Linked DNA regions of Homo sapiens: regions 2 and 3 are each linked to region 1. Evidence: fine-mapped expression QTL. A gene starts in region 1. Each other region holds a variant in brackets. All regions are shown on one strand. Distances are from middle to middle. Region 1 holds the start of ITPKB-IT1 (ITPKB intronic transcript 1). Region 2 overlaps ITPKB (inositol-trisphosphate 3-kinase B). Region 3 overlaps ITPKB (inositol-trisphosphate 3-kinase B).

Region 1 (2,755 bases):
TCAACTCTCACCTATAAAGGGATCCTTCTAAATTCTCTAGATGTATGGAAATCTTTGACAGGTCTTCTGAAGCCTAGAGTCATCGTATAAACATAGATAAATAGTGTAGATATTGCATAGCTATAGATTGATATGTACATATACCATATACATTAGATATATGCTATATATTTACACTTCTTGGCCTTTCGGCTTTATTATCTATCTCCACAAAGTAGGACAAGACAAGCTTGTTTCCCATTTAAGTTTTTCTATCTGTACTGTTTTGCAAATCCACCAGAGAGTTGCAGGACACTCCTGCTACAGAAAGATTTCTGCCAGGCAGGCTCAGAGACCTGCTCTGTTACTGTTCTATTTAATAACACAAACACACAAATGGGGGCCTTTCTTCCCCATGACTTTCATGGCATGGCTGGGGGCAGAGCTGGGAGGTTTTCACGGCCCATATATCCTCAAACTGCTCCATTTCCCCCCGATCTCAGTTGCCACCCCACTAACTCCGGGGTGATCAGCTCCATACCACAATCATCTCCTGGTGATAGAGTTCCATGGATTTTAAAAGCTGTAAGAAAAACTGAGACAGATTCAGAAGAGATTCTAGTAACCCCAAACCAGCAATTACAAATATTTTTTAAGTATTTATATATACACATTTTTTTTTGAGACAGAGTCTCACTGTTGCCCAGGCTGGAGGGCAGTGGCACCATCTCGGCTCACTGCAACCTCCAACTCCCAGGTTCAAACCAATCTCCTGCCTCAGCCTCCGAGTAGCTGGGATTACAGGCACCTGCCACCACACTTGGCTGATTTTTGTAGTTTTAGTAGAGATGGGGTTTCACCATCTTGGCCAGGCTAGTTTTGAACTCCTGACCTCGTGATCCACCCACCTCAGCCTCCCATAGTGCTGGAATTACAGGCGTGAGCCACTGTGCCTGGCCTAATTTTTGTATTTTTAGTTAGAGACGGGGTTTCACTATGTTGGCCAGGCTGGTCTCGAACTTCTGACCTCAGGTGATCTGCCCGCCTTGGCCTCCCAAAGTGCTGGGATTAAAGGAGTGAGCCACCACACCCAGCCACAAGTTTTAGATACTTAAAATACTTTTAAGTATCTAAAATTAGCACCTCTCTTTAAACCTTTTACTCACCCTTTCCTGACCCTTTCCTTGTATCCCCCATTCCCTTTCGATTTCTTCACCATCCCTATTTGCCTCCTTTTCCTCACTATCTACCCACCAAGTCCTGCTCTGCTCCCATCCCACTTAAGATTTTCGTGTCTATTCTGTATCACCCTTAATGATCCACTGAGGCTGTGAGCTTCCTGTTTACCCACAAGCGTTCAGCGGATCCAGCCATCCTACCAAGGGTTAAAGATGCTGTAGTCCTACTGTGCTGCCTCCGACCCAGTTCCTTCCAAAACAAAGCAGGATGACAAGGTGACTCCACGAGAACTGCGTTTGACCTCTGTGTGGGTTTTCTGTTTCCAAGGCCACAGCAGGGTACTCTGAAAACTCTAAACCAGAAGGAAAGGAGACCTAGCCTTCAGAACTCTGTGTGTATGTGCTTACAGGCAAAAAAAAAAAAAAAAAAAAAAAAAGGAACCAATGAGGTTGTCAGAAGGGGATACTCTGCTGTAACTGGTGTTTACCACGACCCACCGGGTGCTGAGGAGGAAGTGGTTGCTATAACCCCAAGGGGGAAACGCTCGCTTGAAACAGGAAAATAGAACTCTTACAACTTTCCATTAGCAGCGTTCAAGAAGCCGGCCACACTGGGAAACACTTGCACAAGCACTCCCCAGAGTCCTGAGACGAGTGTCAAGACAGTCCAATCACGAAGCACAGATCAGGACACAGATACAGGTCCATGTTTTTTCCAGAACGTCTCAGCACTGGAAAAACTCTCATGATCACTTCCCTTACCTCCAGCAGGCTGAACTTGCAAGGAGCTGTGGGGAGGAGGAAGGAAGGGGAAAATGGCAGGATGACATATTGGAAAGAACGCTGGGCCCAGTGAGGGTCAGAAGACCTGGGCTTTAGTCCCAGTTCTGCGATTTACTAGTGGTGGAACTTTGGGCAAATTACCCAACCTTCCTGCTTCTCGATTTCTACTTCCTCTATAAAACAGGGATATTGTTTACTGCTCTGCTCACATCCTTGGGCTGCTGTGAGAATCCTATGGAATCCTTCATAGGATGAAACTCGTATGTGCTACGCAAATGCTTGTTATCAATGTAAGATTCGAGTCTGCATAAAGCCTTCTTGAGTCCCAGCCTCTTGCTCCTCAAACGCATCCTCTCGGCTACACTTCCACCTGTGCACTTCCTCAACCCACCTTACTTGTAATTCTGCCCACACTTCTGTAGAATTTCTGTAGAAGATCCCATAGTCTGGTCAGAGGAGTATAAGCAAGTCTAAATAACCAAAGTGGGGGGATCTCAACCAAATCATTTGACTCTGGGCTCTGTGCTCCCACATTCTCTCCTCTCCAGAGGTGAAGACTTCATCCTCAATGGCTAATTTGCCTGCTTGGAGGCTCAGATTGGCCCGTGTTCTGAGTCATATTTTCCATTTAGTAAAATGAACATCTGGCTGCTGTATGATGCCTTTTGTGTACCATCACCTAAGCCACAATTACCTGCAAGGTAATTCATACCACTACAGCACGGTGCAAAAACAGGGTTGGTTTGGGATGGTGAAAGTCAGCCATCTTAGTGTCAATCTTGCATGCAAATTCTAATGAAGAAAAGCCACTACCA
Region 2 (2,755 bases), 21 kb before region 1:
CTCTCAAGCCCAGCTCTAGGAAATACAAAAGTGGCCTTCAAATGCCTTGAACGTGGTGTGGCAAAGGGTACCTGGTCCCCTGCCCAGGGCAGAGCTGGCCACCTGCTCCTGCATCACCTCCCAGTCATCAGGGGAATCGAGACATCCCTTGTGGACACCTCCCGGAGTGCTCCCAAAGCTCCCTATGTGTGGCAGGTCCCTGCTGGCCTCCTGGGGCTGTGAGCCTCTCTTTGGCAGACCTGGGGCAGGTGGCCAGCTCTGCTGTGACCCTTACTTCCTCACACACAGATGTGGGGTCGGCCTAGCCAGTGGATGTGCTGGGTTTCTTCCTAAGCTGGCTGAGTAGTACTGTGCAGGGGGACTTGCTGCTGGCCGGCATTGCTTTTGTCATCTCTCGGGGAGATAGGAGGGCCCATTTCTGCAGGCGTGCACCAGTACCATGGCACGGTGTGTACACTCATACCTGTTACCACTTATGGGGCTCTCGCTATGTGACAGGCCCGGGTTAGAGAATTATGGCCTTGTTCCTATGTTCTAGTTAGGAGTGTTTTCTCCATTTTACAGATGAAAGAGTCTGAGGCTCAGCAAGTTACTTCTCCAAAGTCATCCCATTCTATGCCCTGCCAGTAGGTACCATGCACATGGGGAGCCTCTAGCCAGTTCACCCACTTCCGTGCCTATCAACGAGTGAGGGCCCACCTCCGAGTGCCCCTTCCAGTCTCGAGACAGCAGGATGAGGGGACAAGAGGCAGAAGACTGGGCAGGAAGGACAAGAGCAAGATTCCTCCAGGGCGGTTCCCCTGGACAGCCAGGGTGCCAGCCCAGTGAAGTTTTCTGGCTGCTCCGTTAGCAGAGGAGCCCAGGGCCCCTGGTGCCCCTAAAGCTGGCCACCGAAACCCCAGATACATCCCTCCCTGGGGCTGCTCAGGTGCCACTTCCGGTGCAGCTGTCAGATGACACAAGGTTTAAGCTCTCCCATGTGTCAGATCAGAGCAGCCAGACACTTCTAGACTCCGGATGGAGTTCTGCACTTGTGATGTTCTTG[A/G]GGACACTTCGGTGGAAAGGAAAGCACCACAACGCAGGGGTGCCCCTGGGTAGGTAAAGGGCAGTGGAGTGGGCTGGAGACACACGGCTTTTACTTTGATTCTGGGCAGGGTGGTTAAACCAACTGAAGACCAGGCATGAGGTCTTTCAGGTAACCCCCGGCCTCACAGGCTTGGATGCGAACCAGCTGGGGAACTCCCTAGGTGGCTGCACTCCTGGTTACAAGAGCACTGGTCTGAGCTTTGCTTAGCTGCTCCTCTGCAGGCAGGGTGGGCAGTGCCTGCTGCTGACATTTGTCACCCCTGCCTGTTGCAACCTGGACCCTGCTCTGTAAGAGAGTCTCGTGCTGAACTCCAGAAGCGCAGGGAAAGATGGAGCTTCAATTCACTCAGAGAAATGTGGAAAGAAAGGATCAGAAAACAGCCGGACCAGGGTGAGGGAGGGGTGGTGGTGGTGGGGAGGGGAGTGATTCTTTGAAACTCAAGAGAGGCCTGGAGACCTCTGGTGTGGTTTTGTCCCCTGGCACCCGACTTGAAAGAGCTAAAATATTCAGAGAATGTGGAGAGAGATTTGTAGTGGGAGGGAAAAAATCTGACAACAAAACCCCAACCATCTTTGCATTGGAGGAGACAGGAAGTCAGAGGCGAAGGGAGCTTGAGGAGCCGGCAGACAGCAGCCACATTCCCCTGCAACAGAGAGAAGCCTGCCCCAGCTCCCGATTCTGCTCCCCACGTCACCTGGGAGTAGGAAGCCCTCGCCTTGGGGAAGCTCAGGGCATGCCACATTTTGTCTCCCTTTTCCTCTTCCCCTTTTCCCAGAAGTTCCTGGTCTGAAGAGCAGATGGGAATCTACTCCCTGGGGGCCAAGGCCTACACAGAATGATCTCCTCCTGCTCAACACACAGAGCCATAAAACAGACCCAGGGTTCTGTGGCAGGTGGGTGTGGAGCCTTCCTGGGCAAGCAGTTACTCCTCCCCACCTCCAGCCCATCCTTGGAGCTGCCCCGAGCCAGTGGGGCTGCCTGGGGAGGGTCTGATTCTGTGTGTTTTTCTGGATCAAGTCCCAACCCTCCCGTGATGCTAACGGTTCCTGGGTGACGCCATCCTCCCCGGGTCCTTCCCATCAGGCATCCTCAGTCATGCTGTACGGAAACACTGCCTTCAACAAATCAGAGGGCAAACGGGCATAACCTCCAGGTCTAGCCTTTGTCGTTCATAAGGCAGGCAAAAAAGGACTGCTGGGGACAGGGGAAGAGGAGGAAGGAGGAAGAGGAAGAAGAGGAGAAGAGTGAAGAGGGGGAGGAGGAAGAGGAGGGAGGAGGGAGGAAGAAGAGGAGAGAGAAGGGAGAGCAGGAGGAGGGTACGAAGAGGAAAGAGGAGGAGGAAGAGGACAGGGAAGAGGAGAGAAGAAGGAAGAAGAGGAGGTGGGGAGGAGGGGAGGAGGAAGAGGAGGGCAGGAGGAAGAAGAGGGAGGAAGGAGGGGAAGGAGAGACCCAGGTTTACCCTACTCTAGGCTGTGGGGATGTGTGGGCCTCTGGCCACCCCACTTACAAAATGCTTTAGCTATCATCAGGATCATCTACATAACATGCAAAATGAAAATGAGGGGTCCCTTGTCCAAAATTCAGTAAGAATGTCATGATGGGGAAAGCAGAACTTCACCAAGCTCGGGGCCCTTCTCATGCCCTGTGACTGCTCAGCCAGGAAATGGG
Region 3 (2,755 bases), 40 kb before region 1:
CTCACACTTCCAGCACAAAAGGGGAAATGTACATGTCCCGTGGGCAGGTTGACAGTTCCCCAGAGACCCCGGGGTGGTGGGGTGGGCAGTGGTTCCTCCAGACACACACACCTTGGTCCATAGTCTCCCTCTGTGTCCCTAGCTCCTGGACTCTCCCAGCTCCTGTACCTCTGACAGCAAAGGAGTGGGTGGCAAGCCCCAAGGAGCATGGGGCACAGAGCTGGGGGTTTTGTTCTTAAGAAGTCAGGCAAATTTTACATTCCCTTCCATATCAGACTCACTGGCTTTCAGTTAAAATTGGGCTTAAATAGGTTCTCCACGAATCTCCAAATGCAGAGACTTCAGGAAGAGGTGCCTGGAGCACGCCCTGGCATCCACCACATACCCTACAAGATACCCACACTACATTGGAGAAGCAGGAATCTAAGCCCTCCAGGCAGTAAGGCTTGTTTCAGAGGCAATAACAAATGATGCCAGGAGGCCACCGCGGCACCTCTGGAAGCCAGAAGCCTGCCTTCTTCCTGCCTGGCGCAGACCTGAGCTCCTCCCCTATTTCTATATCTGCAAGGGACTCTGGGCCCCATGACAGGAGCCCATGTATGCAGGCAGGGTTGACCAACTAGCACCAGGTAGGTGAGGGTCAAGAAAAATGTGCTCCTCCCTGGGGCCAGGGCCCAGAGACTCTATAGATCCCATCTTCCCCTGGTAGCACCCTTGGAGCTCAGCATGGCAGAGTGTGCCTTCTGAACTCATGGGTTGCAATTCCAAGTGGCACAGCTTCTGCTCGCCTCCTCTGGGAAGGCCTAGATCAGAGAACACAGCCAAGCTGGCTTCAGCCTTCTCTTGGCTCCTGGGTCTGGCCTGGAGCCGGCAGGTTTCCATACCAGATGGGTGGGGGGCCTTGCCTGAGCAGCCCTGGAGAGGCCACCAGGGCATCCCTGAGGCTGCTAATCGGAAGACACTTTGCTCACAGTCAACATGTGGTTCCCCGATGGTTTTGTGCCCCAACTACCAGAAAGCCCTGCTCCCAGCCAGGGACCAGGAACCCGGCCGGCCCCCTGGGCTCTCCGGTGGGGAGGCCCCGGCAGAAATAAGGCTGTGCTTGGCAGCACTCTAACAGCACTGGCCGCCAGGGGGCAGCAGGCCTCCGCAGGTGGTAGGTCCAGGCTGGTGCTTCCTAGGGGGCTCCCA[G/C]AGGCAGGGCTCATCTGGTAGGGTCCCCTCAGCAGCCAGGGACCCCCTCCAGCTCTACACCTGACCCACCTCTAAGACTGGGCATTTCTCTTCTAGTAGGTGACCCTCTCTACAAAAAGCAGTGCAAACACCACCTCCAAGCCCTGAAGTTAGGAAAATGACTAGAAACTCTCATCTCCTCTTCTACAAAGTGTCTTGTAGTGCAGTTCAGGAGGGTCAGTCAGGTGTAAGTGAAGGAAAAGTTAGGAACGAGAAAGGAAGCACAGGAGGAGGAAAGGAGGCCCAGGCGGGGGCCAGGGAGGGCGTGGGCAGCTCAGGCGAGTGGGGCATCCTGGGACATCTCGGTCAGGATGTCGACGAGGTTATTGAGCCCCGAGAGGTAGCCATCCTCCCGGTTCCCCTCCTGCCAGGGGACGTCATGCTGCAGGGTCTGGCCCTCAGGCAGGGGCGTGGTTTTCCCAAAGTCGATCATCCACACTTTGGCCTGTTCCTTCTTGTCGTGGATGAAGAGGAGGGAGCTGCCAATGACCTGAGGAGAACATGGGGGTGAAGGGTGAGCTGAAGCCCGGGCCTCGCCCTCCCCACTGCGGCCCGGGGCCTGGGTGACCAGGTGGGGAGGCTCGCTCAGGCCGGACAGTTGGGTGCCTGCAATTCCAATCCCCATTTTCAGACAGGCAGCAGAGCCGGCCCAAGAATGGCCATGCCTGGGCAGAGGGCATCGGGTTCCAGGGTCGGCGACCACCCTTCTGTGTGGGCAGCAGCAGGCACCCCTTCACCCCCTGACTCTGGCCTGCACACTTTCCACTCCTTCCCTCCCTCTTTCTTTCCTTCCTTCCTGCCTTCCTTCTTTTCCTTCCTTTCTTCCCTTCCTTCCTTCCTTCCAGACAGGGTCTTACTCTGTCGCCCCAGCTGGAGTGCAGTGGTGCAACCTCAGCTTACTGTAGCCTTGATCTCCTAGGCTCAAGCGATCCTCCCACCACAGCCTCCCGAGTAGTTGGGACTACAGGCATGCACCACGATGCCCGGCTAACTTTTTGTTTTTTATTTTTGTAGAGACAGGGTTTCACTATGTTACCCAGGCTGGTCCCAAACTCCTAAGCTCAAGCCATTCTCCTGCCTTGGCCTCGGAAAGTGCTGAGATTACGGGCATGAATCACACTGCACCTGGGCAAACTTTCCACTCTTTCTAGACCACAACCCAATCTGGGGCCTCGCCCTTCCGCCTCCTAGAACCTGACTCCTCCCAAACACTCTGCAGGGAACCACAGTGAAGGGGAAGGTGCCCAGGAGCGTCCAAACTATCCCGGGGCGGGGGTGGTGAAGAACCTGTTTCAAATGCACACAGCACCCCCACCCCAGCAGCACAACCCCTGCAGATTCAGCGTGGGCAGACCCTATAGGGCCTTCCCAGCCTGGCCCAGGGATAGTGGGCACCAAAGAGCCTGCCCCTCCTGGGTGAGCTCAGAGCCTCTGCATGGGAGCGAGGCGCTTTCCCAAATATGGCCACACATACCCCTGCATCACCTCAGTGGGGCCAGAGGAAGGCCGGGGGCACAGAAAGGGC

The links. PIP is the estimated chance that this variant, and not a neighbour inherited with it, causes the effect.
Region 2: its variant is fine-mapped to the expression of ITPKB-IT1 in whole blood (TOPMed, PIP above 0.99).
Region 3: its variant is fine-mapped to the expression of ITPKB-IT1 in whole blood (TOPMed, PIP above 0.99).

The regions. Positions count from the first base shown.
Region 1 is chr1:226,673,559-226,676,313 of GRCh38, forward strand. It overlaps ITPKB-IT1 (ITPKB intronic transcript 1), which reads right to left and starts at 1,510. Exons shown (of 2, transcript NR_103784.1): 1 at 1,359-1,510. The region is part of intron 2 of ITPKB (inositol-trisphosphate 3-kinase B); the gene reads right to left. RefSeq lists a silencer at 2,492-2,641.
Region 2 is chr1:226,652,601-226,655,355 of GRCh38, forward strand. The region is part of intron 2 of ITPKB (inositol-trisphosphate 3-kinase B); the gene reads right to left. Among named protein-coding and RNA genes, the nearest start is that of ITPKB-IT1, 21 kb to the right of the region's middle. RefSeq lists enhancers at 988-1,177, 1,173-1,764. The variant A/G (reference allele first, on the strand shown) is at 1,046.
Region 3 is chr1:226,633,167-226,635,921 of GRCh38, forward strand. ITPKB (inositol-trisphosphate 3-kinase B) reads right to left here. Exons shown (of 8, transcript NM_002221.4): 8 at 1-1,720. The coding sequence ends at 1,505. Among named protein-coding and RNA genes, the nearest start is that of ITPKB-IT1, 41 kb to the right of the region's middle. RefSeq lists an enhancer at 1,998-2,755. The variant G/C (reference allele first, on the strand shown) is at 1,192.